Homo sapiens: one gene and its partners. The protein of the gene in region 2 interacts with the protein of the main gene of each other region in a biochemical or structural test. Each region holds a gene or a part of one and is shown on either strand. Other genes may lie near its edges. The genes, in order: MYL2, PAK2 and SH3RF3.

Region 1 (10,020 bases), on a different chromosome or scaffold from region 2:
TCTGCATGTCTGTATCTGCGTGCATCTCCGTATGTCTCTGTGTCTCTGTCTCTGTGTGTCTCTGCATGTCTGCACCTGTGTATGTCTCTGTGTGTCCCTGTCTATGTGTCTCTGTATGTTTCTGTGGCTCTCTCTGTGTGTGTCTCTGTGTGTCCCTATCTGTGTGTCTCTGTGTGTGTCTCTGTATGTTTCTGTGTCTCTCTCTCTGTGTGTCTCTGCATGTCTGTATCTGTGTGCATCTCTGTGTCTCTGTGTGTGTCTCTGTATGTCTCTGTGTGTCCCTGTCTGTGTGTCTCTGCGTGTCTGTATCTGTGTGTGTCTCTGTATCTCTGTGTGCATCTCTGTATGTCCCTGTGTCTCTGTCTCTGTGTGTTCTGTATGTCTCTGCAAGTCTGTACCTGTTCTTGGGATTCTCTTTTTTTTTTTTTTTGAGCCGGAGTTTGGCTCTGTTGCCCAGGCTGGAGTGATCTCAGCTCAGTGAGTGGTGTGATCTCAGCTCACTGTGTATCTGTGTGCATCTCTGTATCTCTCTGTGTGTCTCTGCATGTCTCTGTCTCTGCGTGTGTCTGTCGTGGGTGAGCATGTCACTGTGGAGCTGAGTCCAGGGTGTCTTGCCCAGAACCACGCACTGCCCTGGAGTGTCCTGAGTCCCGCCTTCTTGGTGCCGGACTGCATCTCTGACCACAGGAGCCCGGGTATGAGGCTCTCGGCCTGGACCAACTCTGGAGTGCAGGGAAGCCGTGAGGGGCGAGGGTCACCACAGGGTGTGGGGTGTCCTGGGTCATGGGGATGGGGCCATGACTCCCCTGGGTCCCTGCCCACGCAGCCTGCTTTGAAAGGGGCCCCAGGTCTCTGCAGCCAGGGGACAGTTTCATTCGTCTTGTTAATGGCTCAGCCCTGAGCTCCTCCCACTGTTGTCATTGTCAAGCCTTGAGGACTGGCCCTAACTGTGGCTCCTCTGGCCTCCTGGGTCCTCCTGCCTTCACTGTGACCCCAGCTCCACTCCGTCACCACATTTCAGCTTCTTCCCATCACATCACTGACTTGGGCTGTGTCCTGGGTTCTTGGGTTCTTAGGAGTCTCTCTCTCTCTCTCTCTTTTTTTTTTTTTTTCCGAGACGGAGTTTGGCTCTGTCGCCCAGGCTGGAGTGATCTCAGCTCAGTGAGTGGTGTGATCTCAGCTCACTGCAACCTCCACCTCCCGGGTTCAAGTGATTCTCTTGCCTCAGCCTACTGAGTAGCTGGGATTACAGGCATGTGCCACCATGCCTGGTTAATTTTTGTATTCTTAGTAGAGACGGGGTTTTGCCATTTTGGCCAGGCTGGTCTCGAACTCCTGACCTCAAGCCATCTGCCTGACTCGACCTCCCAAAGTGCTGGGAGGGTTCTTGGGATTCTCTTGAAAACTTGAAGTACCCGAAGTCCACTCCCTGCTTCTTCTTGGGTTTTCCTCTGGGGAATCTTCCCTCCCATCTCCAGGCCATATGGTTCAGGAGGACTCTGATTTCAACCCCAGCACAGGGCTGATCATTTGAGCCAGGCCTGTCCATCAGAGCACTGCCCTTGCCAGTCCATGGTGATTGGCTCAGGGGTGTCAAGTGCCCCAGAGGGATCCCACAAGGCCCTGTTCTGATGTTTGTGTGGAGCTGGAAGAGAGAGGAGTACGCTCTTCTAGGATTGCTGAGGGGCTGGAAAAGGGGCAGGAGCTGCTCTTAATTATTTTGCCACTGCTGAGAGCAGAGCAACGTGACAGAAAACAGAGGCCTCCCCAGCCTCTGAGGGCACTGCCTGGGCTCCTAGGTGCAATTGTGCTTGAAGCCCTTGGACTTCTTAGTTATTTGAACCTATTTCTGTTTTTTTTTTTTTTCCTTTTCTAAGAGACAGAGTCTTACTCTGCCACCCAGGCTGGAGTGCAGTTCACTGCAGCCTCGACCTCCTGGGCTCAAGCGATCTTCCCACTGCAGCCTCCTGGGTAGCTGAGACCACAGGTGCACACCACCATGCCTGGCTATTTATTTTTTATAGAGATTGGATCTCACTATGTTGCCTAGGCTGGTCTCAAACTTTTGGGCTCAAGTGATCCTCCTGCCTCAGCCTCTCAAAGCGCTAGCATCACAGGCGTGAGCCACCACACCTGGCCCTATTTGTTTCTTACACTGGGACTCTTGCAGCCATAACAGACCTGAATGCTTCAACCGTGACTGTGGTCATTCAAAATCAAAGGTCAACTCACATCCAGGCCTGGGCCCCAGACAGAGACAGAAGTCAGTACCACTCCCTCAGTTTGCTAGGGAAGAAGTACAGACAACTTCTACTTTATCTGAAACTAGAAGTCACCCTCTTAGGATTAGCAGGTGTGATTACTGTTGAACGAGCTATGTTCCTACCATGTGTCAGTCCGCTTCCTTCTTGTCACTGTCACTGGCAGGAGAGGCATTCCGATGGCATCCCAAGGGACAGATGTCATGGAAGCAAGGCCCTCTAAATGCTTGAGCTCTTTGGAAGAGAGGGCTTTGGTCATCCAGGTAACATTCCAGGAAAACGTGATCCTTGATAGAAACAGTTCTGAGTGGCTGCAAAGGTCTACCTTAAATAAAGAGTCACCAAGATTCAATAATAATGACTGCAAGGCTGTCACTAGCTCATCTGCCTTTGCCTTCCTTACACAAGGCACTGTTTGTCAGAGAAATGTCGTGACCAAATACACGACCTCCTGTTTATTGGAACATGGCCTCTGGATGGATTTCCAACTGTAGGATGTGCGGCCACGAAGTACCCATAGCCACCCAGGCTGCAAAGAAGATGGAGGTGGATAAATGGGGCAGCCACATGGCTAACAGACAAGGTAGGGACAGAGGCGGTACTCGGGGGAGAGAGATGAGGGCAGGGACCACTCTGCAAAGACGAGCCCAGGGCGCAGCAGCGAGCCCCCTCCTAGTCCTTCTCTTCTCCGTGGGTGATGATGTGCACCAGGTTCTTGTAGTCCAAGTTGCCAGTCACGTCAGGGGGGAAGGCGGCGAACATCTGGTCAACCTGCAATGAGCCAGCAACACGTGCTAAGGACGAGGGGAGGGGAACTGAGACGGAGGGTGGGGGGCTGTGGGCGGGGCCTGAGTGGACGGATAGCTGGGGGGTGGGGGATGGGAACATGGGCCACTCAGAGGGTCCTCCGGGGAAGGACTTCCCCAGCTGCTGCAGGGCCCCCTCGCCCAAGGTCATGCCCTTTCTGGGGCAGCCCACAGCCAGCGGATGGGATTGGTGTGGGGGTATAAAGGCACGGCCATCTCGCCCAACTTGGTACCTCTCAGGAGAGCTGTAGAATAAGCTCCCTCCCTGGGTAGTCAGCAGTGCCGATCTTTGGGCCTAAATCTTGGCTCAACTTCTTCCTTCATGCACTTTTCCTTCCTTGCCCTTCCCTGTTCTTCCTTTCTTGCCCTTCCCTGTTCTTCCTTCCCTGACCCCAAGGGCCCTCCCAAGTAAACATCATGCAGAGATGTCCCTGGAAACCCAGCCTTCCACTGGGATCACAAACTCAAGGGTTCCGAGGGGCCAGGCAGGTTATGCAAGGGAGCAGGATAGGTCCTATGGCTAAATGGAGACACGTGGCCATCTAAAAAGGTGACATGAAGTGACCACAGGGTCCAGGGTGTCAGAAATCTAGATTTTTGTTTTTACACAAAATTTCCCCATTTAAAAAGCATTGGCTAGTTATTATTATTATTTTTTTAAAACATACTGGCTATTCATAGCTAGCACTTATATTGCCCTTGCCACAAGTTCACACTTTCCCCACATTAACATGTCGAATCCTCGCAATCTCCTATGAGGTAGCTTCTATTATTATTCCCACTTTACAGATGAGGAAATTGAGGTGCAGTGAGGTTAAGGAGCTTGTTCAAAGCACACAGCAGGTGGAAAGTGAAGGCAGCCCTTTTAGCTGCTTGAATTTTGGGGGAGGGAAAATCTACATACAATTTTTAGTAAAATGTGGAACTTGATGGAAACAGGCCTGTGAGGCTATGAGGGGAGCATTTAAAATCGACTCATTAAGGTTCACTAATAAGGTTGACGGCACCATTGCTTGCTCATACAGAAGCTTTGGCAAATTAGCAAAAGTGCCCCTTCTACCAAACTCACTACCGCACCACCTGAGTTGAAAAAAAAAAAAATTATTACCAGACACTTTACTGCCAGTTCTGGAAAGCTGTTGCAACAAATACACAGTCTGATGACTTTTATGAAACTGACATTTAGAAGAATTGTTCAGTGCACAACTCACATGACAGTATGTGGCGGCCCTTCACGCCATAATAATGTCATGCTCTAAGCAGGTCTCTATGCATCGTGAGCAAGGCAGAACCTGCAGTCACGCAGACCTAGGTTTGAATCTAGGTCCTGGCATTTACTATTAGTGTTGTTATTTTATTTTATTTTTGAGACAGAGTCTTGCTCTGTTGCCCAGACTGGAGTGCAGTGGCATGATCTTGGCTCATTGCAACCTCTGCCTCCCGGGTTCAAGCGATTCTCGTGCCATGCGTCAGCCTCCTGAGTGGCTGGGAATACAGGCGTCCACCACCATGCCCAGCTAATTTTTGTATTTTTAGTAGAGACAGGGTTTCCTCATGTTGGCTAGGCTGGTCTCAAACTCCTGGTCTCAAGTGATCCTCCTGCCTTGGCCTCCCAAAGTGCTGGGATTACAGGTGTGATTATTGTTATTTTAGATGAGTGACTTTACTTCCCTGGGTCTCAGTTTGCCTATCTGTAAAATGGCAGTTATGCCAGTCCCTACCTCATAGGGTGGCAGAGAATGAAATGAGGCCAGGCCTCAGAAGACGATAGCTGGTTCTCTGTCAGTGTGGGGTCAGGGGTGCTTTAGACGAGAGGGGAGACGGAGCCCCCCAGAAGGAGAACCCAGGAGCTGGGTTAGAGGGAGTGCTTGAAGGACCCCATTACCTCCTCCTTGGAAAACCTCTCCGCCTGCGTGGTCAGCATTTCCCGAACGCTGCAGAGAAAGGAAAGCAGGTGTTGGTGTCAGTTGTGTGTGTGTAGGGGGGACAGGGGGCAAGCAGGGAACCCCCTTCCTCCCCCACAGACCCCACTCACTAATCAGCCTTCAGCACCCCTTTGCCTTCAGGGTCAAACACTTTGAATGCGTTGAGAATGGTTTCCTCAGGGTCCGCTCCTGAAACGGAACACAGGGCTTACATGTACTGGGGGTGGCTGGGAACCACTGGCACCCCAGGCAGCAGGGCCCAAGTTCCCCCAGAGATGAAGGGGCCAGAGCAAGGCTGCTTTGCATGGAGGAAAAAGACCCTGCTTTCGTCTGATCACTGAGCCTCTGTATTTCGAAGAGAGGGCTGAGAACCCAAGGTCAAACATCATCTAGATTTGAAAGCCTGGGATTCAAATCTTAACCCTGGCACTTGCTAGCCATGTGGCCTCAGACAAGGGACTTTCTGTCTCTTAGTCTCAGTTCCCCATCTGTAAACTGGTGATAAGAATAGAGCATACCTCCTAGTTGCTATTAAGTGGGGTAATGCATATAAAGTGGTTAGCATGAGGTCTGACTTAGGTTAAGTCTTGGAGCAATGTTAGTTGCTGTGTTTTTGTTTTGTTTTGTTTTGTTTTGAGACAGAGTCTCACCTTGTTACCAAGGCCGGAGTGCAGTGGCACAATGTCAGCTCACTGCAACCTCTGACATCCCGGTTCAAGGGATTCTCCCGCCTCAGCCTCCTGAGTACCTGGGACTACAGGTGCACACCACCATGCCTGGCTAATTTTTTTGTGTGTTTTTAGTACAGATGGGGTTTCACCATGTTGGCCAGGTTGGTCTTGAACTCCTGACCTCAAGTGATCTGCCCGCCTCGGCCTCTGAAAGTGCTGGGGATTACAGGCATCAGCCACTGCGCCCAGCCAAGTTGCTGTTTTCATTATTTTTTTCCAATGGTGCTTTATCTCTTTTAAAGTTAACCATCTTCTGCCAGCCCCCCCGAAGAAACATAGACACATACACACAGACACACACACACACACACGACCTTACCCTTAAGTTTCTCCCCAAACATTGTGAGGAACACAGTAAAGTTAATTGGACCCGGAGCCTCCTTGATCATTTCATCAATTTCTTCATTTTTCACGTTCACTCGCCCTAGGGTAGGAAACACACACTCAGGGACTCCGAGCTGGGGAGAAAGAACCATTATGACACTGCCATTGGCTCCTGGGATTCCACTTCAAGAAATCTAGTCTAGAAATCATCAGAGATGGGGTGGATGGAGGCAAAGATCTTTTCTGAGAAGATGTTCTTGACAGTGTTATTTATAATAACCAAATGACTGGAAGCGACCCTAACATCTGATGTGGGAAGGTGTTCGTTATTTATTTATTTTTCTTTGAGACAGGGTCTGGCTGTGTCACCCAGGCTGGAGTGTAGTGGTACAATCTCGACTCACTGTAACCTCCGCCTCCCAGGTTCAAGCGATTCTCGTGCCTCAGCCTCCCAAGTAGCTGGGATTGCAGGTGCATGCCACCATGCCTGGCTAATTTTTGTAGTTTTTTGGACAGACAGGGTTTTGCCATGTTGCCCAGGCAGGTCTCGAAGTCCTGGGTTCAAGTGGTCCTCCAGCCTACGCCTCCCAAAGTGCTGGGATTACAGGTGTGAGCCACCATGCCGGCCAGTTCATTATATTTAAAATAGTGTCTTCAGAACCTGGAACATTTGATGCAGATATTTTCATTTTTCACTCAAATGGGAAAGGCTCATGTTGTAAATTAGCCCTTCACAGTTGGAGGCGGGAGAGACAGATCAGGATCACCTGAGGGAACTTTTACAAGTTAAACCTGCTGTAACCCACAGCCGTGGAGGTTCTGATTTACCTGCTCTAGTCCTGCCACAAGCCTAACTTTGTGCAAATAAGAAAAATCTGTCATTTTTTAAGCCAATGTATGTTTTAAGTATAAAAAGCTACACTCACTACAAATGTGAATACTTCCCTGTAGAATTGTGCAGTGCGCAGTCTGCACAGCTGTGTATGGTTGCCCTGAGTTCTAAGGTCAGGAGTAAGTGGTGGTGGCGGGTAGCAGATTGGGCATGTATATTTTGAAGAAACTCCATGTACTCATGCTCACACTGTTGAGATGATACATTTTAGAAGATAAATTCGAAAGAGAATGATTCCAATAATTTAAAAAACTAAAACCCAAACCTAACAGACATGTCTAGAAAGACTTAGAGGAGGGACTGGAATGTTCACAGTGGAATATGACCTTCTGGGTGATGTCATTTTCTCCTTTATACTTTTCTGCATTTTTTCCCCATTTTCTGTTGTGAGCTGACATTGCATTCAAAATCACACAAAAAAGTTATTTCAAGAGAAAAAAAAGATATCTGAAGGTACTCAAAGACTAAACACTTCTTTCCCATCCCCTGAAATTTGTCTTAAAGACCAGTTGTGGCAGAGTTGTTTCTTTGGGAAATGACACCATCTTGAGCTTTTCTGATGGTCCCACCTCCTGCTCCTCATGGATGTGAGATAAAGAGACCCTCATGCAGGGCTAGAGAGGGTGACATACCAAGGGCAGCAAAGGTGTCTCTCAGATCGTTCTTGTCAATGAAGCCATCCCTGTTCTGGTCCATGATAGTGAAGGCCTGTGGAAGGGAAGTGATTGGCAGCTCAGCCTGGGAGAAACTGGCAGAGTTGCCCAAGAGATTGGGCCAAGGACTTGGCAGGAGTGGATTCTGGGATCTTCAAAGATCATTGTAGGACCTCAGATTAAAAGTCAACAATTGAAGATAATCCAACAGTTTCTTCAAAACGTCAGGCCTCGTGTTATCATATGACCCAGACATTCCACTGCTAGATATATACCCAAGAGAATTGAAAACATGTCCACATAAAAGCCTGTACACAAGGCTGGGCACAGTGGCTCACGCCTGTAATCCCAGCACTTTGGGAGGCCTAGGCCCGTGGGTTACTTGAGGTCAGGAATTCAAGACCAGCCTGGCCAACATGGTGAAACTCCGTCTCTATTAAAAATACAAAAATTAGCCAGGCGTGGTGGCGCATGCCTGTAATCCTAGCTACTTGGGAGGCCGAGGTAGGAGAATTGCTTGAACCCAGGAGGCAGAGCTTGCAGTGAGCTGAGATCATGCCACTGCATTCCAACCTGGATGACAGAGCAAGACTCCATCTCGGAAAACAAAAACAAAAACAAAAAAACCTGAACACAAATGTGTATAGCAGCATCGTTCACAGTAGCCCAAAACTGAAAATAACCTACATGTCCATCAACTGATGAATGGATAAACCAAATGTGGTCTGTCCATACAATGGAATATTATTCAGCCATAAAAAGGAGGGAAATTCCTACAAAGGTTACAACATGGATGAGCCTTAAAACATCAGTGAAAGAAGCCAGACACAAATACCACATATTGTATGATTCAATTTCTATGAAATGTCCAGAACAGGAAATTCATGGAGACAGAAAATGGATTAGCAGTTGCCAGGGGCTGGTGGGAGAGGGAGGAGCAGGAAGTGACTGCTAATGGGTATGGGGTTTCTTTCGGGGGTGATGGAAATATTCTGAAATTAGATAGTGGTGATGGTTGCACAACTTTGTGAGTATACTGCAAACCACAAAACTGCACACTTCAAGGGTGAATTTTATGGTATGCAAATTATAACTCTATAAAGCTATTTATTTATTTATTTATTTATTTTTGAGAAAGAGTCTTGCTATGTCACCCAGGCCGCAGTGCAGTGGTGCAATCTCGGCTCACTGTAACCTCCGCCTCCCGGGTTCAAGCGATTCTCCTGCCTCAGCCTCCCGAGTAGCTGGGAGTATAGACGCGCATCACCAATGCCCAGCTTATTTTTCTTTAGTAGAGTCAGGGTTTCACCACGTTGGCCAGGCTGGTCTCAACCTCCTGACCTCAAGTGATCTGCCCACCTTAGCCTCCCAAAGTGCTGTGATTGCAGGTGTGAGCCACTGTGCCTGGCCCGTGATTCCTCATTTGTAAAACACTTGGGCATTTATAAAGTTCTGAGAATCTCCCTGACTGTCAGCTGAGATAGATTACTGGTCCCATTTTATAGATAGGGCAGGCTAGGGAGTGGAGAGGCCAGATGAGACACCAGTTTTTAGCTTTTTAAAAAATAATAGCTTTAGGCCAGGTGCAGTGGCTCACGCCTGTAATCCCAGCACTTTGGAGGCCGAGGCGGAGGGATCACTTGAGGCCAGGAGTTTGAGACCAGCCGGGCCAACACAGTGAAACCCTGTCTCTAGTAAAAATACAAAAAAATTAGCCAGGCATGGTGGTGAGTACCTGTAATCCCATTTACTCAGACAAACAAACAAACAAACAAACAAACAAACAGACCAAATGGGGAATCCTGGCTACATGTTTTGAGTTCTTTGCATCCCTTACCCACACCGCCGGCAGCTGATGCCAGAGGCTGGGAAAAGAGGCGGGTGTAGCTTTCTGCCTGGAAGGTGACTATCTCAAGTTCAGATATGACACTTGCCTCAGGAATTTCTCTTTCCCTATGGGACACGGCATTCCTGCAATCTGAATGTTAGTGAGGACAAAAGGTACGACTGTTCATTTCCTGTTTGGAAGCCCCAAATGGTTTCCCCTTTGATATAAAGCACACTAGGGCAGGGTGTAGTGGCTCATGCCTGTAATCCCAGCACTTTGGGAGGTCAAGGCAGGAGAATTGCTCGAGCCCAGGAGTTTGAGACCAGCCTGGGCAACACAGGGGGACTCAATCTTTACAAAAATCACAAAAATTAGCTGGGCACAGTGGTGTGTACCTGTGGTCCCAGCTACTCAGGAGGCTGAGGTGGGAGGATTGATTAATCTGGGAGGTTGATGCTGCAGGGAGCCGTGGTTGTGCCACTGCACTCTAGCCTGGGTGACAGAGCGAGACTCTGTCACACGCACAAAAAAAGAAAGCAGTCTGGTCTCTTTAGCATCATTTTAGCATAGTTCCCTCTGGAAAGCCAGGTGGGAATGTGG
Region 2 (10,020 bases):
ACAGAAACAAAGGCCATGTGCAAGGGAGAAATAGAAATCTTTTTCAAGTGATCTTGACCTTTTTTTGTTGAGTCTAGTACACCGTTAGGAAAAGGTCACACTTGCTCCTAGAACTTTTCTATCAACCAGTAAGTCTGTGTGTAAATTAGTAATTTTTTTGAAAAACCAATGTTTGACCACAAAATGGTAGCTTATTTTCACCTAGTACACATACATACATATATGTGTGTGCGCACGCGCGTGCGTGTGTGTGTTTTGTTTTGTTTTTGAGCTGGAGTTTACTCTGTTGCCCAGGCTGGAGTGCAGTGGCACAATCTCGGCTTGCCAGAACCCCCGCCTCCCGGGTTCAAGCAATTCTCCTGCCTCAGCCTCCTGAGTAGCTGAGATTACAAGCATGCGCCGCCACACCTGGCTAATTTTGTATTTTTAGTAGAGACTGGGTTTCTCCATGTTGGTCAGGCTGGTCTTGAACTCCCAACCTCAGGTGATCTGCCTGTCTCTCGGCCTCCCAAAGTGCTAGGATTACAGGCATGAGCCACCGCGCCCGGCCTGTGCGTATGTAATATGTGATATGTGTGTGTGTGTGTGATATATATATATATATATACACATATATATATATATATACACACACACATATACACACACACACACATATATGTATGTCTCTGGGCATTTTTAAAAGAAAAACAAAACAATGTCAGAATTTTACTTTGCACAATTGTCATTGTCTTAATTGTTGCATTAAGTTCCTCAGTCAGCAGTTTTCTGGAGAAAGTATCTTTATCAATAAATTTGTTTTGTTTTAATAAATACAGATTGATAGGTATACTTTCAAACTAAATTTTGATAGCTTTATTGAGGTATAATTTACATGCAATACAATTCACCCATTTTAAATATATAATTCACTGATTTTTACTAAATTTATAGTTTCATGTAGATTTCAGATTTCTTACCTTGGTCTTATATAAATTCTTATTTGACTACTTGCGTGTTCATTTTTCTCAAGAGTTAATTCAACTTGAAATCAGTTTAAGAACATTTCACTTTCTCTGCTTTTTTTTTTTCCTTTTATCATATAAAAGTGCTGTTTCTTGAATTGCTAATGTTATGTTTTGTTTCATATTCAGAGAAAGATGGCTTTCCTTCTGGAACACCAGCAGTAAGTTAATTATATTATTTCTTGTATCTCTTGTTCTAATTTAGGTTACCCAAGACAAATCTCAGTTTTTATTTTGCTTTCTAAAATAAATTACAGCCATCAGAGGTAAATAACTACTCAATAGGTGTTTTTAGCTAGCCACCTGATTAGTTGAAGAAGCCGTATTAAATAGAAATTCCTTGATGTGATACTTAATGTAACTAAAATTTATAATGACCTTCAGAACAGTTTAGTTAGTTTTGGTAATGTTAACATATACAAACGTGAACACAAAGAACTTGCTAGCATATATTTTCCTCTCCATCCCTCAGTTTTCCTTCTGGTACTATTTTACTGAATATAGACTGTGGAAAGGTGCTGAACAGTTGAACCTTGTCAGTCTTCAGAGTCATCTGAAACTTAAGTTATCGCATAAACACAGTCAGTTTTTGGAAACAGTCGTTTTATTTGCAGTTTCTCAATTGGGAGGAAACAGTCTCCTGGAGTTTTATTTTTTTATATTTTATTTTATTTTATTTATTTATTTATTTTATTTTTATTTTTTTTGAGTTAGAGTCTCGCTCTGTCGCCCAGGCTGGAGTGCAGTGGCGCAATCTTGGCTCACTGCACGCACCGTCTTCTGGGTTCACTCCATTCTCCTGCCTCAGCCTCCCGAGTAGCTGGGACTACAGGCGCCTGCCACCACGACCAGCTAATTTTTTGTGTTTTTAGTAGAGACGGGGTTTTACCGTGTTAGCCAGGATGGTCTTGATCTCCTGACCTTGTGATCCACCCACCTCGGCCTCCCAAAGTGCTGGGATTACAGACGTGAGCCACCATGCCCGGCCCCAAATCTGACTGTTTTAAATGTCACCAGATGTCTCTGACATAACAAAGCCCAGAGGATCTTTGATTTTGGTCTTAACAAGTAACATTGTTTACTTTCAGGACATTGTATATGTATGCTTAGGGTAACTTTATTAAAATATTTGGTACTCACCATATATATATATTTCATAAACTTTTTCATGATTCATAGAATCGCCTTATTATGTTAGATTATAATTCTATTGAGTTATCTAAGAGCTAATGAGATTTAGTGGTTTTGAAATGAGCTATCAAAGAAGCAAACTTTTTGAAGTACGTTCATAAAGGGCGATAGTCGCATTTAAGCCTATTGGACTTGTTTTCCTTACTTTGCTCATCATCAATGCAGCTGAATGCCAAGGGAACAGAAGCACCCGCAGTAGTGACAGAGGAGGAGGATGATGATGAAGAGACTGCTCCTCCCGTTATTGCCCCGCGACCGGATCATACGAAATCAGTGAGTCTCCATCGGTGATCTAGGCTGTGTGTGTGCACGTGTGTTTTAAAAAATAGCAGAGTTTGTATTTGACTTTCAGTGATTGCTTTTAAAAAGCCCTCAAGTTTAAAATCGTTTAGTATGGGGAAATTTAACCAAGAAATCTGTACCCAAAGACCACTCACCTAAAACTAGTTTTCTGAAGATTAAAATGTGATGTCTTTAAAAGTTAACGCACTCACCTCACTGGGCTTTTTTCTTTGTATAGTACACCTTTTCCAGAGGGTTCGTCTATTTCCCAAGCTTTCTCTGTTTATCTCAATGTAGATGACGACTAAATCTAAAACTTAGAGCTTTCCTCTTACCCAGATTATGCATTTTAATCTCCCATTTTACACTACTCTCAGCGCCTTGCTGTCATTCAAAAGGCAGTTGAGAATGAAATTCCTAACCAGGTAAGGGAGAATTTTAAAAATGATGACCTTAAATGGAGCCAGGAAGAGAGGAATGACTGCGGTTACCATTCTGCTCCCTTCAGTACTGCAGGTAGAGTGTGCGGAAGGTGCTGTGCCGTGGAATGGGCTGTGCTCCTGGCACAGCGGGCAGGCAGAGCTCAGGAGACAGCCTCTGGATGCCAAGCTGATGGCAGAGGACTCCGTTTTCTTTAGCCTTTCAATCTGGCTGTTTGAAATGGGTGGTAGGCATTATAATTGTGTAAAAACTTTCATGGGAATTAATAATAGTTATTTCAACATCAAGGTTTCTGTTCTTTTGCATTTTACTTACCATTTGTAGTAAAAACATGATTTTTAAACCGTGCTTTTTGATACATTGTTATACCATTTTAGACCTGGTCACACTTAAATTTCATTCATGGACCTGCTGTTTTACTAGACAGCTTTTCAAATATATTCATGCTATGCCAAAGAAAAATGTTTCACATTTATTCTTCTTAGTTACACATCTTTTATATCTGAAAATAGTGTTCTCATTATTTAGAACAATGGAAAAGACTACTTAGTTCAGGTTAAAAATCAAAGAACTGAATTAGTTTGCCAGGAAGAATATCTGAAAACATTATTCCTCAAACCTTGGTAATGAACTGTGTCTCCACAGATTTACACACGGTCTGTAATTGACCCTGTTCCTGCACCAGTTGGTGATTCACATGTTGATGGTGCTGCCAAGTCTTTAGACAAACAGAAAAAGAAGACTAAGATGACAGATGAAGAGATTATGGAGAAATTAAGTATGTTATCTACATTTTACATCATTGTTAAATTGTTCACGGCTCTTAAAACATTTGGCCCAGATGGATTTTAACTTACACTTTACATTGTGACTTAAAGTATAAAGAATAAATTGTTTCCTTATAGCAACAGTAGCTTCAATTACAATCTGGTGATGTCACCAGGTTCACCCCTAAATCCCAGCACTAGGTCAGGAGATCAAGACCAGCCTGGCCAACATGGTGAAACCCCGTCTCTACTAAAAATACAAAAATTAGCTGGATGTGCTGGCATGTGCCTGTAATCCCAGCTACTTGGAGGCTGAGGCAAGAGAATCACTTGAACCCAGGAGGTGGAGGTTGCAGTGAGCCAAGATTGCGTCGTTGGGCTGGGCGCGGTGGCTCACGCCTGTAATCCCAGCACTTTGGGAGGCCGAGGTGGGCGGATCACAAGGTCAGGAGATCGAGACCATCCTGGCCAGTATGGTGAAACCCCTCCTCTACTAAAAATACAAAAATCAGCTGGGCATGGTGGCATGTGCCTGTAGTACCAGCTGCTTGGGAGGCTGAGGCAAGAGAATCACTTGAACCCGGGAGGCGGAGGTTATAGTGAGCCGAGATCGCGCCACTGCACTCCAGCCTGGCAACAGTGAGACTCCATCTCAAAAAAAAAAAAAAAAAAGCGAACCGGCCGGGCACTGTGGCTCATGCCTATAATCCCAGCACTTTGGGAGACCAAGGTGGGTGGATCACTTGAGGTCAGGAGCAAGACTAGCCTGGCCAATGTGGCAAAACCCCATCTCTACTAAAAACAAAAATTAGCAAGGTGTCATGGCAGGTGCCTGTAATCCCAGCTACTTGGGGAGCTAAGGCAGGAGAATCACTTGAACCTGGGAGGCGGAGATTGCAGTGAGCCGAGATCGTGCCACTGCACTCCAGCCTGGGCGAAAGAGCGAGACTCAGTCTCAAAAAATAATAATAAATAAAATTAACAATTAAAGAATGCTAATCTAGAGGGTTCAAGGAAAAATACTGTATGGAAGGATTGTTTTAAACATAAAGCCTGGGCATAGTGGCTCAAACCTATAATCTCGGTACGTTGGCTGGCCAAGATAGGAGGATAGCTGGAGTCCAGGAGTTCAAGGCCGAACTATACAACTTAGACCCCGACTCCACCCCCTCAAAAAAAAAAGAAAAAAAGAAAATTAACGAGACCTGGTGGTGCATGTCTGTAGTCCCAGCTGACTGGGAGCCTGAGGCAGGAGGATTGCTTGAGCCCGTGAGTTCAAGGCTGTAGTGAGCTGTGATTGCGCCACTGCACTCCAGCCTGGGTGACAGAGTGAGACCCTGTCTCTAAAAAATAAACAAATGTTTATATGCCCCATGTTTATTTGGTTTTGATTTCTCAGTGCTTTCAAGTATAAACCTGGCTCTTACTCTGTTATTATTATTATCTTTTTTTTTTTTTTTTTTTGAGACAGAGTCTCGCTCTGTCACCCAGGCTGGAGTGCAGTGGCGTGGCTCACTGCAATCTCTGCCTCTCCAGTTCAAGCGTTTCTTCTGCCTCAGCCTCCCGAGTAGCTGGGGCTACAGGTGTGCGCCACCACACCCCGCTAATTTTTGTAGTTTTAGTAGAGATGGGGTTTCACCATGTTGGCTGGGCTGGTCTCAAACTCCTGACCTCAGGCATGAGTCACCACACCTGGCCTGCTCTGTTACTCTATGAGCATATAAGAATTATTTTAGGAGAGCTGCTACTTAAAAAAAAAAAAAAAATTAACTAGAATCCTAATTGTCATCATTTAGTTGTGACCTTTAGCTGTCACATCCCCAGTCTTTTTGGTATCTTTTTGTTCTTAGCCTCTTATTATTGATCCTGTTTCTTTGCTTGTTGACTTGAGGTTGGGTACCTACATAAAACTATTTATGTCAGTTTCCTTGATATGGTCCTGTCCTTTTTTACCTTGAGCAAGTGAAAGTTTAATGTGGTTTTTCTTACTAGTAATAAGAATATAAGTTAGGATTTTATGTCCAACTTCCTAATTTTAAAACCTCTTTCTTGTGACTTTGAACTTTCCTAAAACAAACATATGATTAGTTTATGTCAGAGCATAGTAATTTTTATGGTAATAAGTGGTTTTCTAAATATATTGAAAGATGAAATGTATACTGGAAGAGTCAGAAAGACCATTTAGGGTTTAGATAGCCTTTATTATTTATAATACTAAGTAGTCTCAAACTTACCTATTAATAGATATATTCAAATATATCTATTTCTATATTCAAATATATCTATTTTATATTCAAATATGTCTATTTTCTTGAGATTACCTGATTCTAAAGCTGAACATCTGAGAACCTAATTAATCTCTGACAAACTGGTACAGTCTTTTCAAAATGTGACCATTATTGAGCAAATGATTAGTTAGGAGGTCTAACCTAATGGAAATAATGTGTCTTCTTGTTTCTGTTACTTTTAAACTTTTAATGTGTCTTGTTTCTGATACTTTTAAACTTTTATTATGTATTTAAGTTTCTTTAGTGTTTTGTGTTTGAAACCTGTTATTTTTGGAACTTAGTATTATGTTTGAAAATCACTTATAAAAACAGTGGAGTTCATTAAAAGGAATAATAATATCACAATCAATTTACACTTAAAATGCTTGACTGAGCTTCCAGCTTTTTGTTTATTCTAGGAACTATCGTGAGCATAGGTGACCCTAAGAAAAAATATACAAGATATGAAAAAATTGGACAAGGGTAAGTATTTGTGACTGTATTACGATAATATTCAGTATTCAGTATTTCCTGGCTTTATAGCATGATGTTTATTTTGCCTGCCGACATCAAGTACTTATATAGTATTCTGTGAGTGGTACCCTTGGGGGATTTGTGTAAATAAATAATGCAGTTATTTGTAGATGCTGTTAAAAAACTGTACTAGTTGTTAGCAATGACTGTGTATCATTATTTTTTCTTAAGTGTCATTTCCCATCTGTGATAATTAGAGGGAAGAATTGCCCATAAAATATATTTAAAAGACAATAAGAATATTTACTGCATGACTATAAGCAATAAAAAATGCATTTAAATCATGTCATTGTGTATTGACTTTTGAGTCTACTGATCTTCTGATTTTGTTGTGTAATTTGTATTTTTAAAGTATACTAACTAAACTCCTTTTTTCTGTTGCTTGGAAGCAAATAAACACCTAAATTTTTAATGTTATTAAACTCTGGAAAGCATTCTGTGAATTTAGAGTGAGGGCTTAAGCCATTTTTGAAAACTTCCATATGAATTCCTTCCTCCCTTCCTTCCCTTCCCTCCCTCCCTTCCCTTCCCTTCCTTCCCTCCCTCCCCTCCCTCCCTTCCTTCCCTTCCCTCCCTTCCCTCCCTTCCCTCCCTCCCTTCCTTCCCTTCCTTTCCTTCCTTCCCTTCCCTCCCTTCCCTCCCTTCCTTCCCTCCCTTCCCTTCCTTCTCTTCCTTCCTTCCCTTTTTTTTTTTTTTTTTTTTTGGCGGAGTCTGTCACTCAGGCTGGAGTGCAGTGACATAATCTCAGCTCACTGCAACCTCTGCCTCCCGGGTTCAAACGATTCTTCTGCCTCAGCCTCCCAAAGTGTTGGGATTACAGGTGTGAGCCACTGCACCAGGCCTGAATTTCTTCCTAACAGCTAAATTCAATTGCAGCACTGGTTTTATGAAAGAGAATTGAAGATTATCTTACTATTTTTGAGCATGAATGAACAAGCAATACCTATCCATATGGATGACCATCACAAATCCAGTGTTGAGTCACAAAAGCAAGTTGCAGAATAATATGTGAAATGAAACTATATGACGTTTAAAAATTAGACAAAGTATATTTTATAGGGATACATATCTGCGTCCTTTGTAGTTAAAAGTATGGAGAAATGCATGAAAATGATGAACACCAAATACAGGATAAACACCAAATACAGATCACCTTTGGGAGGAAGGAGACTGCTGTCGGAAAGGGCTTATGGGAATCTTCAAATTATTTACAGTTATTTGTATCTTAATCAGGGAAGTGTATCCTTAAGTATATGTTATATAATTTTTTTCCTGCTCTTTTTTCCCTACATTTTTGTAGGTCTGAAATATTTCACACATAAGTTTTGCCGTAAGGATTGTCTCTTTCTTCCCCCACCCCCTTTCCTCAGGTTTTTGCTTTTACTCCTTTTAAGCACGTTAGGTCATCCTGTTCTTTAATTCTTTTTCAATTGCTTGAAGTGTAAAGTCTTTGGATATTGCAAATGCTAGTGATTTATCAACCTTAAATCTGGTTGTGTGTTTTCTCCCTCTAGGGCTTCTGGTACAGTTTTCACTGCTACTGACGTTGCACTGGGACAGGAGGTAGTTACTTTGTTGTAATCCTGGGTGTTACCATTATTTTGTCATATAGGTGGAAACTAGATGAAGCTGGGAAGAAGCAATAGGAACCTCTTTTAAGTTGAGCCCGTTGTAAGAATCGCTCTACGTATGTTTATAGCACTTCTGTCAGTAAGGCGGGGAAGGACTTATGAGTTCAATGTCATAAATAAGCAAATACTTAAAAATTGTTTCCTCAGCTTGAAGTGAAAAGAGGATTAATTCTTAGTATTGGACTGACTGTGGGTGTATTAATCAACTTCAAGATAAATCTAAAACTAGGTTCTAAACATTACAAAGCATTGTGCACAGGCAGTGTGCAAGGCAAGGTGCCACCTGGGAGTAATAGCATGGTGTAATACAGTACACGTACCGTGAGTTATCAACTGCTTGGGGTTTGTAATTTTCTAAGAGAATTCCTAAACCTGGTTTTTTTCAATCCTGTTTTCATTATAGGTTGCTATCAAACAAATTAATTTACAGAAACAGCCAAAGAAGGAACTGATCATTAACGAGATTCTGGTGATGAAAGAATTGAAAAATCCCAACATCGTTAACTTTTTGGACAGGTAAGTATGACTATTCCTTAAACACCGGGAGAAAATGTAGAAATTTTAAGTCTCATGGTTTCGGGGGTGGGGCTGGCCACTTTGGAATAAACTGTCAGTGCCGAGAAATAAGATGGAAGAAAGAAGAGGAGAGGTAAAAATAGCACAGTGCAGTTTTAGAAGGTCCTTCTCTGCAAGGACATCACTTGGCAGGTGAGAGAAGGCAGTTAATTGAAGGCCATAGCTGGTGGTGTTTATACTCATCGCAAACGACCTGAAGCGAACACATGAATGGTTGGCTGTGATTCGTGTCTTGACTGACAGAGGGGACTGGTTACATGGTTTTTAAACTTGTGGATCAATTTTTATTTCAAATGCTATCCTTCATGGACAAATTTATATGTCTATCAAAACCTCATTTAGTTGAGGAATTAATGTTAAATAACAGACCAAAAAGCAGAATAGAAAATGATGCATATTGGCTGGGTGCAGTGGCTCACACCTGTAATCCCAGCTACTCAGGAGGCTGAGGCAGGAGAATTGCTTGAACCCAGGAGGTGGAGGTTGCAGTGAGCCGAGATCGCACCACTGCACTCCAGCCTGGGCAATGGAATGAGACTCCATCTCAAAAAAAAAAAAAAAGAAAAGAAAATGATGTATATTACTACAACTGCATGAGAGAAGATTCGTTGAAAATGATAACAGTGGTTTTATTGAAGATAGAGGTGATTATAGGTGATTTTCTTCCATATTTAAATTTGTTTAGAATGAGGAAAAAATAATGTTTAGAGACTTTATCCCTAGTTATGGAGAACATGTTCATAGAAATAAACTTTTCAGGCTAGGCACGGTAGCTCACGCCTGTAATCCCAGCACTTTGGGAGGCCGAGGCAGGTGGATCACCAGGTCATGAGATCGAGACCATCCTGGCCAACGTGGTGAAACCCTGTCTCTACTAAAAATACAAAAATTAGCTGGGCATGGTGCCGCACACCTGTAGTCCCAGCTCCTCAGGAGGCTGAGGCAGGAGAATTGCTTGAACCCAAGAGGTGGAGGCTGCAGTGAGCCGAGATCGCGCCACTGCACTCCAGCCTGGCAACAGAGCAAGACTCTGTCTCAAAAAAATAAATAAAAAATAAACTTTTCAGGTACAGTTCCCTGCTTTTTAAAATAACATTTCAAGTCAGCATAGTGTGGTGGTTAAGATAAGCCAGGGGCTTCGGAATCGTTGATCCTTGGCTTCATATTCTGGTTCTGTCACTTCCTATTAATAGCTGTGTGCCCTTGGATGAGTCACTTCACCTCTCCAAGCCTTTGTCTGTTTATCTCTAAAACAGGACTAGTAATTTCTATATTGTAGGGTTATTTTAATCAGAATGAGCTATGTGCATACTCAAACTACAGTTGT
Region 3 (10,020 bases), on a different chromosome or scaffold from region 2:
TTTCAAGACTCTGGAAAGAGAGCGGGCGCTGCTCTCCTCTCCACTCTCAGAGGAAGGACATTCAAGTAGAAGGTGCTGCAGAGGGAGCTCCTCTGAGAAAGGACTAGGGGAGTGTACTGTGAGCAGCAATCTGGGGCCGGGTCAGCGAGGCTGGCAGGCTCAGCTGCCCTGCCCCAGCAGCTGGCAGGCAGCAGGCCAGTCTCGTAAGTAGACTTATGAGCCAAGCCCACGAGCCTGGGGTGTAAGTCACCTAGAGGGCCATGCCCCGTTCCTTCCAAGAGGACCTCATCTTTAGGTGTCTGGCATATTCTTGTCCTGCGGACTATGTGCAGAGGGAGCTGAATTTCCAGAAGTTGCTTGTGGAACTCAGAATACGGGTGTGGTCATGGGAAATGCAGGCAGCAAATGCACATGGCATCAGGTTAGAACCGTCTAATGCCCCAGTTCCCCAGCTACACCAACCCTGGTCTGTTCTGGTGCAGGGCCAGGCAAGCTGAGTTCTGGGACCAGCCCCTCCTGCCCACTGGATGCCTGCCTCCTGGCTCTTCTGCACCTTGGCAGTATCAAGTATCGTAGAGAGGCTTTGAGTAGACAGACACTCTGGGCCACCTACCGGCCATTTCATCCTGAATATCTTTCATTCCTTTTTTTTTTTTTTTTTTTTTTTTTTTTTTTTGAGACAAAGTCTCACTCTGTCTGCTGGAGTGTGCAGCGGTGCAATCTTGGCCCACTGCAACCTCCGCCTCCCAGATTTAAGCAATTCTTGTGCCCAGCTTCCCAAGTAGCTGGGATTGATTACAGGCGTCCACTGACATGCCTGGCTGATTTTTGTATTTTTAGTAGAGACGGGGTTTCGCCATGTTAGCCAGGCTGGTCTCAAACTCATGGCCACAAGTGATCCGCCCACCTCGGATTCCCAGAGTGCTGGGCGTGAGGCGTGAGCCACTGCACCTGGCCCCCTTTCTTCATTTTTATAGTCCTAGTTTCCACATACATAAAATGGGGATAATAATACATGTCTGGGTATAATACTTGTAAATCACCTAGATTAACACCAGAAAAAGTATGAGTGCACACTAAACACAACAATAATAATATATGCTATTGTGTCCAGAGTTGGTTCCTGGTGGGTTCGTGGTCTCACTGACTTCAAGAATTGAGCCACAGACCTTCGCGGTGAAGAGCAAAGGACAAAGCTTCCACATGGAAGGGGACCCACCGGGTTGCCCTGGGGTGGCCAGCTTTTATTCCCTTATTTGTCCCCTCCCATGTTCTGTTTTTGTCCTATCAGAACGCCCTTTTTTCCATCCTCCCTGTGATTGGCTACTTTTAGGATCCTGCTGATTGGTGCATTTTACAGAGTGCGGATTGGTGCATTTTACAGAGTGCTGATTGGCGCGTTTTACAGAGCACTAATTGCTGCATTTTATAATCCTCTTGCTAGCTACAGAGCGCTGATTGGTGCATTTTACAGAGTGCTGATTGGTGCATTTTACAATCCTCTTGCTAGCTACAGAGTGCTGATTGGTGCATTTTACACTCCTAGCTGCAGTGCTGATTGGTGCATTTTACAATCCTCTCATAAGAAAGAAAAGTTCTCCAAGTCCCCACTCGACCCAGGAAGTCCAGCTGGCTTCACCTTTCACTATGACCTCTCTAATAGTAACATATGCTGTGACATCTATGATAATAGTAAGTCAGTGAGGGTGAGGGCACCTGCAGCACGGCCTGGCCGACTCCTGCCCCTTTGACCTGCTTCTCCCCAGATGTTCACATCGGATCAGCTCATCCTCAGCTCTTGATGGCCTGTGAGTTATATGGCTTTGTTAGGATTTCAGCGTTCCTTGATCTGATCCATTATGTGTGTGGTGAGCAGAATAATGGCCCCCAAAGATGTCTATGCCCTAAACCCTAAAAACTCATGACTATGTTACCATACATGGCAAAGAGAAATCAGGTTGCAGATGGAATTAAAGTTGCTAACCAGCTGACTTTAAAATAAAGAGATTACCCGGGATTATCCAGGTGGGCCCTGTGTAATCACAAAGGGTCCTTATGAGTAGAAGAGAGAGGCAGAGGAGAAGGTCAGAGTGGCATGATGTGAGCACTCCCCTTTGAAGATGGAGGAAGAAGCCTCCAGAGAAGGGATGAAGGCAGCTTCTAGCAACTGGAAAGGCAAGGAAACAGCTTCTACCCTAGAGCCTGCAGGAGGAACCAGCCTTGCAGATGCCTTGATTTTGGCCCAGTGAGACCACGTTGGAGTTCTGATGGACGGAACTATAATATATTTTTATAGTATGATGCCACTACATTTATGGTCATTCGTTATAGCCATAAACAACTAATATGTGTGTTGATATTACAGTTTAGTGTCCAGGGTATAGAAGTATTCTTATCCCCAAGTTCCTAGCAGACACCACTCTGTTACCAGCACATTCCATGGACTCAGGGGCTCATTCGTCTTCCTGTGTTGGAGCAAGTGCTCTGAAAAGGCTACCACATGGAGGGCCACTTTGCAGACTCTGTTGTCAGGGAGGGAAGCAGACGACCCCCAAGGAAAGCAGAACATCCAAACCTCGCACACAGAGCTAATGGTAATAATAATGGAATGAGAATTCATTCTGATTTTGCCCATTTGGATTCCTTGAGCCCTGTGTCTGAAAATTAGCTGTGGTTGCCATAACCTTAATTATACTCAGCAGGGCAGAGTTGCTTGCTGATTTATGACGCACAGTTGTGACCTGGGAGTAGCTGTCATCCTCAGCTGCTGACACGGACACGACAACGGCGCTCTGTGTCTATAACGGGGAGTATCAATTACTTTCCTGCAGCAGGAAGAACAGCTCAGAGTCTTGGAATGATCTGGACAGAAACGTTAAACACTTGTCTCGTATAAATTCAGCCCACATCCATCTGGGCTCATTAAATCATTGAATTGCTCAGAAGCACCAAATTACATCTTTCTAACAAATTATATTTTTAAAGCTGCTTGTTTATTTCACATCTGGAAGTTGAGGCAAAAGCCAAAACTTGCATTCAAAGTCTGAGAAATCATCTCGCCCTTTGCCTTCCTTTCTTTCCTTGGGGAAGAGAGAGGAGGAGCAGGTGTTTGGAAGAGGTGGAGGATGGCAGAAGGCCACAGGTAGGATGGCGCTGATCCTGTGGGCCCTCGCAGCCTCAGTTTGTGTGTATGCTGTCTGATTTCACAGACCGCTGGCTGCATCCCGGCAGCCATCTGTCCTCCTTGAAGGAGGGCCAGCAGGAAGCCCTCACAGAGACGCTGAGCTGGGAGGAAGGAGGTGCCTCCGCCTGCCCTCCTTCCTTCCCGCCTGCATGTCCCTGAGAGCAGAGTCTGGTTCGCCGGCAGATAGCCCATGGGAACCAGTCCAACCATCGTGCACCCGTAGATGCTCTGAGACACTTAGAGTTGGCTGGTATTCGGGACTGCGACCCAGAACCTGGCCTGTTCTGCTTCCCCAGGAGTAGGAACACTGCACCCCCAAGTCAGCCTCAGGAGCCCATCCTCCATGCCTCCTCCTCTTGCCAGCCTGGTGCAAGCTGGGCCTGTGTGCCCAGGGGCTGTGCACTCCATAGGACTGGGCCTTGGTCTCCTGTCTGCACATTTTTCCTGAGCCTGGCACCAAGCCAAACTGCCCCAAAGCCATGGCTTCTGCGCCCCAGGCTCTGTGAACACGTGGGGTGGGGAAGGGCAAAGGCTTCCTCCCTGAGCATGCACTCAGCTCGATTTTCAGACACCAATGTGCAAGCATTCCCTCCCAGAGCTGCTGAAAATCCACATTCCCTAGTTCATTCCCCCTAAGTAGTATCAAGTAGGTCCAGGATGGGCCCAGGGAACTGTGGGGGGTCCTGAAGTATGTGAGCCACACTTGGAGCAGGTGTGCAGTAATCCCTGTGGCGATGGGGCTTGCAGACTGGTGCAGGAGGCAGGATGGGTTGGGTAAACAGGTGAATGGCTGGGCAGTGGAAGATGGTAAGAGCTGGGAAAGGGCAGGCCCGGCGTGGCCACACAGGGAAGGGCGTTCTGGGCAGAGGGAGCAGCATATGGAGGAGCCCTGAGGTGGGTGCACCTGGGGTCGCTAGGGCGCGGCAGGGCAGAGCTGGTGGAGTGGGAAGGGCGCAGTGTGGAGGGCCTGGGAATGCTGGGGCGTTTAGACTGTGGCCCCTCCTCTGAGAGGGATGGGGACTGCTGGAGCCCTCTGAGCCTTTGCCCAAAAGGAGCCTCAGCTGTGAGGCAACTCAGTCCAAGCAGGGTGAAAGCAGGAGGCCCAGAGTGGGCAGCCGCCAGGACCAGGAGCCACCCACAGGAGACCTGCACGGAGGCCACCAGGGAAGGCATCCAGAGCCGCGGGGGCCGTGTCTCCTAGACAGCCTCGGCGTCTGTGGAGATGGGTACCCGGGCAGTCCAGTGCTGGTTATTGAGTGCCTTCGCCCTGCCAGGCCCATCTCGGTGCTGCTCAGCAAAGTGGGTGTCTGAGGGACCGTCAGCCAGGGGTTTTTAGGCAGAGAGAATAGCTGCACCCTGCCTGCCACAAAATCCACCACATGTGGGATCTGGGCTTTAGATGTGCGGTCCAACACCCTGGTGGCCCAGGGGCATCTTCTCTCAGCCCTTACTGCACAATCCTCACCCACAAAAGGGCTGGGGGTGCAGGGGCCCAGCCAGGCTTCGGGCAAGCATGCCCCTGTGGAGTTTCCCCAGGGCAGAGGGAGGCCCAGCTAGTGGGAGTGGGGATGGGGCCCTGCCTGTCAGACTCTAAGCATAAGGGCCGAGGGCACAAGGCCCAACTGGTTCGTCCTTGGCAGTGTTTTAGAGGAAGGCTCTCCTGGGGCCACCACAGCTGCTTTTCAGCCTTGTTCCTCCTCCTCTGTGGCTTGCAGGATGGGTGTGGGATAGCAGAGCAGGGGGGTGTGTGTGTATGTGTGTGTGTGTCCTGTCAAACATAATCATAGCCGGACACTAGTGAAAGTAGTCAGACAGGTTTTAATCGGCAACATAACTGACATTTGCAATGGGGAATAGGGTCCAGGCTGAGCTGAGCTCAGGTTCAATTGGCACACAAGTGACTGGGGGTTTCCAAGAGAGAATGAGGGAGCAGGGAGGCAGCGAGTGGGGGCTCAGGAGAGTGGGGGAAGTGAAAAGTTACAGATGGTGGAAGCGGGTGGTCCGTGTGAACACATCTGGACATGCTGACGTGCTCACTGAAGTCAGGAGACAGTGTGTGGCTGTCCTCAGGTGTGGCTGGAACCCACAGTCGATTCTTTTGGCTGCCGTGAGGTTTCTCAGGCAGGCACTTTAAAGGGGACTGGGGTCAGCCTAGGGATGCCACCTTGAGCTGTTAGAAGCTATGTTAGTGGTTGTTCAAGTTGTTATAGGCAGAGGTGAGGCCCAGCCAAGAAGAGGGCTCAGAGGAGCCAGGCTGGAGTGTGGTCGAGGAGAGAACTCTTGGTCAGTGCCACAGCTAAGTGTTGCCAGGAGCACCTGCCACAGCCCAGAGAGCCCCTGGGGTGCACTCAGAGCTCCAGCACCTGCCACGCAGCACACCCCATGCCCCTGGGTCCCTGCAGGCGGAGGCCATGCAGGGAAGACCCCAGGGAAGGCTCCTGTCTCTGATTCCACACTACAGCATATTGGTCTGAAGACAGGGACTCCAAAGAGGCCTCAGAGGCTGCAGGGGGCCCAAGTCTTGTGGAAATGAGATGTGGGGAAAGTTGGGCCTTATTGATGTTGATGTTGTGGCCTCAGCCAGTTCCAATGCTAAGGCACTGGGAAAAAAATCTTATGATTTTTGGAGCACATTTAAAAATAAGGACAGGTTAGGCACGGTGGCTCATGCTCGTAATCCCAGCACTTGGAGAGCCTGAGGCCAGCGGATCACTTGCACTCAGGAGTTCAAGACCAGCCTGGGCAACATAGCAAGACCCCATCTCTACAAAAAAAAATTAGAAATTGGCTGGGCATGGTGGTATGTGCCTTGGTCCCAGCTATTCGGGAGGCTGAGGTGGGAGGCTTACTTGAGCCTGGGAGCTCAAGGCTTCGGTGAGCTAGGATCATACCACGGCACTCCAGCCTGGGTGGAAGAGCAAGACCCTGTCTCAAAAAAATAAGGACAATTTACATAAACAATGTTCCAAGTACCTTTCACACATCACATTGGGCCCCAACCTGTGAGGTGGTGCTGCAGTTGAGGAGCGTGCTTTTCAGAGGAACCTGCAGAGGGAGAGGTGAGGACACGAGCCCAGGGTCTTGACACTGGGATGGGGCAAATGGGGACACAGTTTTTCCTGACCCTCCCCCGCCCCTGCCCCTGGGAGGCCGCAGTCTAGGTGGGTGGGCCAGGGCAGGAGCGTGGATATGAGATGGGGGGCTGTGCTTGGGTGGAGAATCTTCAAGGGAGTGAAACAGTCCAGCTTCTTCGTAGATCAGCGTCTAAAAGGACAGCAGGGGGAAATGCCTTTTAAATTTTTTTTATTAAAAAATGAAAAATTTCCAGAGTTTTGAAAAAATTAAAAATAAAGATAAATAGAAATTGTATAAAGTGGGAAAATAGCAGCAAATAACAATAATTTACACCGAGGGAAGAAGAGAAAGCACGACCCAGCAGATGGAGATTGTCTGTGTGGGGCTCACCCACTGTGCTGTTTCCCCAGGTACCGCGTGGTGGTCTCGTACCCACCCCAGAGTGAGGCGGAGATCGAGCTGAAGGAAGGCGACATCGTCTTTGTGCACAAGAAGCGTGAGGACGGCTGGTACAAGGGGACCCTGCAGCGGAACGGCCGCACAGGCCTCTTCCCGGGCAGCTTCGTCGAGAGCTTCTGAGAACTGGTGCTCCCTGCACCCAGCTCACAGAGGGGGAGGCCGCCTGGGAAGCTCCACGGCACACAGAGAGGGAGCCATGGCGCCCCAAGGGTTCCAGGTCATCTCCAAGGCACCTGGCGGGGGATACCCTGGCCCAGGGTGGGGGCCAGGGACTGTGGAGGTCGTGCCTTCTCCCAAAACCCCCAAACGGAGAGCACACCTGGGATGTTCTTCAAGGAAATGCCCACCCCCTCTGTGGAAACTGCAAAGAAAGCACCTTGAGGAAGAGAGGCAGGTGCCGGCGCAGGCAGGCCTGTGGCTGTGGTTTGCAGCCATGGCAGCGTTCTCATTTACCACCTAAGCAGGGTTGGAGGTTGCAGGAGGTCTGCAGGCGAGGTGGGTGGCATGGGGGCCAGGAGCGCTGGAGATCATCTTTCTGGGCTGCCCTGGGCTTCCCGCGGGGCCCAGGTTGCTCTGTCACCATTCTATATACCTCAGTCACCTGCCGCCCGGCTGCTCAGCAGGGGTGTTTGTGAGGCCCTGGGGGTGCCCCGGAAGGGGCACCCCACCGCCCCTGTTGGGAACCAGAGCAGAATCTGTGGGCTTGTCGCCTGCCAGTAGTATAAGCAACACTTTCTGTTCACCACCATTGTCCCTTGCATTACTTCTTTCTTACAGCATATTTTTAACATAAAGCTGTTAGACTTTATATATTTCTAATAGGTCAGACATTGCCTATTTTTCATACATCTGGTGCTGCCTTTTTGTAAAACTAATAATGACTTGGTTGAGCTTGAAAGAAAAGATGTCTGAGGCGACATCAAAGGGGCAGAATTTTTATATTTCCCATATGGCTTTGGGAGAGCGCCGAGAAGCCGCCATCCCGCACCTCAGCGCTGGCCAGTACTCTGGGGGCTGGCGGGGTGGATCCATTGAGGGGGTCGGAGGGAGCTTGGAAGCAGCCGGTTTCTTTAAACTCTTACCAAAACCCCGCGCTCTGTCTAGACGGTGATGATTATTATTCAAGACCTGGAAACATTTCGAGGAAGGGCCACTATAATTGTCCTTTTGTGTGGCGGTAGAAGGAGCACGCAGGTCAACCCCAGCCGGGAAGGCAAAATCTTCCCTTTATTGCCTCAGAGAGAACTGCAATTAGCATTCTCAGAAGATGATTTCTTGGTATCAAAATGTGCAGTTTCTACAACAGTTTAGATCACCACCACCATTTTTCTTCTTTTTTAAAAATAAATAACTGCTCCCATTTCAGGCAGTGCAAACCTTCATCTGCTGGAGACCAGAGGTACAAGGAGATCAGGGGGTTGCAGCACCGCTGCAGGCTTGCAAGATCGGGGAGTTGGGAGGGCGAGAGAGGAGGAGGTGCAGCTTTGATGCTGGGACCTCCCTGAGTGGGGCTGATGAATGTATATTCATTAGCACCATGGCTCACTTCCCAGGAAGACTGATCAGGAGCCCTTCAGGGACAATTTTGTTCTCAAGATTCACACCTTAGGAACACATTTTTATCACCTCAAAATTTTGATCCATCACCCCTCTCTCCACCTATATTTTTACAAATACCATTCAGACTTAAATTAAGCTGAAGAAACTAGCCTTTGGTAACATAGGGTGTCATTGGTTTTCAGGGATGTAACCAATTCCAGAAATACATTCTTTTGCCTGGCATGAAGACTTTGAAACACGGGCCGCTTATTTTCAGAGTTCCTGTTTTGGGACGTGACTTGGCTACTTGTTACTTCCAGGTGGTCACCACACGGCGGGGGTCATGCCTTTCCCTCCCCCAAGATGATAATAGATTTAATAGACTCAAAGAAGTTGTTCAGAATCAAAGAAGAAAAAGTCTGGCTTAAACATAGTAACTTCTGTGTGCCAGGTTAATGACAACCAAAAGCTCTCTATTTACCATTATTGCCAAACTTCATCAGTTGCCCATCCTGCACCAAAATCCTGTGCGTGTTTAAATTCACGTTGTCACCAAAGAGGTGCACAGATCAACAACCTGGATGACGCAGGTGTTCTCCAGGGAAACCAGACCAAGTCAAGTCTCCAGGTAACTTTTTTGAAGTCTTTTTTTTAAGGCGCGCAGGTACCAAGCAACAGAATAGAGTAACCTGAACGTTCTTACTCTCCCAGGCATGGCCCACGTGGTGCTTCAGGTAGAAATGTGCTTCACCCTCCTGGTGGGGGGCGAGGACACAGCCCACTGCATGCAGCATGGTAGAGAGCTGGGGCGAATATCTCCATGTCTTTGGAGGATGTCAGCTGGCCGCTTTCAGGGCAGAGTCGGGTGGGCGTTGGTGCCACCTTAGGAAGGAGAGCGATGCGTGGGTCTGGCCAGAGCTCTGGAGCCAATGCCGGGCTGCCTGAGAGCAGAGGAAATGCATGGCCCATGTGCATTTCTGAGTATTTTAAACTCGTTCAGGCCCTGCAGCCTTCATGATGATGTAGCTCGCAGAGAAGAGCAGGAGCAGAATTAGCCCTTTCTTCAGGCCATCTTGCCTCAAAGGGTACACATGTTTGGCGGTTAAGATGAAACTAACCCTTATGTTTCATCCTGGCCCCATGATGTACACATCTTAGCCATGTAGTGGCCTTGGGGGGCCACAGAGATTTCCTTTGAGGAGCATGGTAGAGTCCACAGCCATGGCTGAAGTCAGTGGACACCGAGGGGACAGGACTGCAGGCCACCAGGGGCCTCTGCCCAGAGGGAGGCAGAGAGGATGGCGGCCACGGGTGCTCTCCTGGCATCCTCATGGGGTGATGCCAGGCCGGGCACTTCAAAACAGGCTCAGCCGACTGGGAGATCCTTTGTACTTTGCACAGTTCACACACACAAACACACACACCCTATCCCAAGTGTTTTTGTTAGACACAAATGTCAGCGTGTGATTTTGGAAGACTTGTCAGTGATGACAAACCATGATGCCTGTGTTTCTGAGTCTTTAAATAAAAATGAACATGGAGAAGGCTTGTGTCTACGTGTTGGGAGGAGCAGGGTCCAGCAGAGGCCAAGAGGGACCCAGGTAGGAGCAGAACCTGAAGGTTTGGCCCACCTGCCTGCTGACCAGCCCAGCTGGCTTACGCACCTGCCTCTCAGTGCTCTTGTGTGGGGTGCACCGAATCTGTATCAGGATGGCATTAGTCAAGGAGATGGGAGAGTCGTGACATCAAATGTCTGTACCCAG

What was found.
Region 1: of the proteins of PAK2 (region 2) and MYL2, one has a biochemical effect on the other in vitro, tested with the Homo sapiens proteins (one study listed by BioGRID).
Region 3: the proteins of PAK2 (region 2) and SH3RF3 form a complex in vitro, tested with the Homo sapiens proteins (one study listed by BioGRID).

Annotation. Positions count from the first base shown.
Region 1 is NC_000012.12:110,908,144-110,918,163, forward strand, and holds the end of MYL2 (myosin regulatory light chain 2, ventricular/cardiac muscle isoform), read right to left. Parts: intron 7,648-10,020; coding exon 7,572-7,647; intron 6,182-7,571; coding exon of another isoform or gene 6,148-6,181; coding exon 6,043-6,147; intron 5,182-6,042; coding exon 5,103-5,181; intron 5,002-5,102; coding exon 4,953-5,001; intron 3,033-4,952; coding exon 2,934-3,032; 3' UTR 2,702-2,933; downstream 1-2,701. UniProt on the Homo sapiens protein: Contractile protein that plays a role in heart development and function.
Region 2 is NC_000003.12:196,804,219-196,814,238, forward strand, and holds part of PAK2 (serine/threonine-protein kinase PAK 2), read left to right. Parts: intron 1-1,133; coding exon 1,134-1,165; intron 1,166-2,360; coding exon 2,361-2,468; intron 2,469-3,563; coding exon 3,564-3,696; intron 3,697-6,371; coding exon 6,372-6,435; intron 6,436-8,000; coding exon 8,001-8,049; intron 8,050-8,520; coding exon 8,521-8,633; intron 8,634-10,020. UniProt on the Homo sapiens protein: Serine/threonine protein kinase that plays a role in a variety of different signaling pathways including cytoskeleton regulation, cell motility, cell cycle progression, apoptosis or proliferation.
Region 3 is NC_000002.12:109,494,834-109,504,853, forward strand, and holds the end of SH3RF3 (E3 ubiquitin-protein ligase SH3RF3), read left to right. Parts: intron 1-6,669; coding exon 6,670-6,838; 3' UTR 6,839-9,801; downstream 9,802-10,020. UniProt on the Homo sapiens protein: Has E3 ubiquitin-protein ligase activity.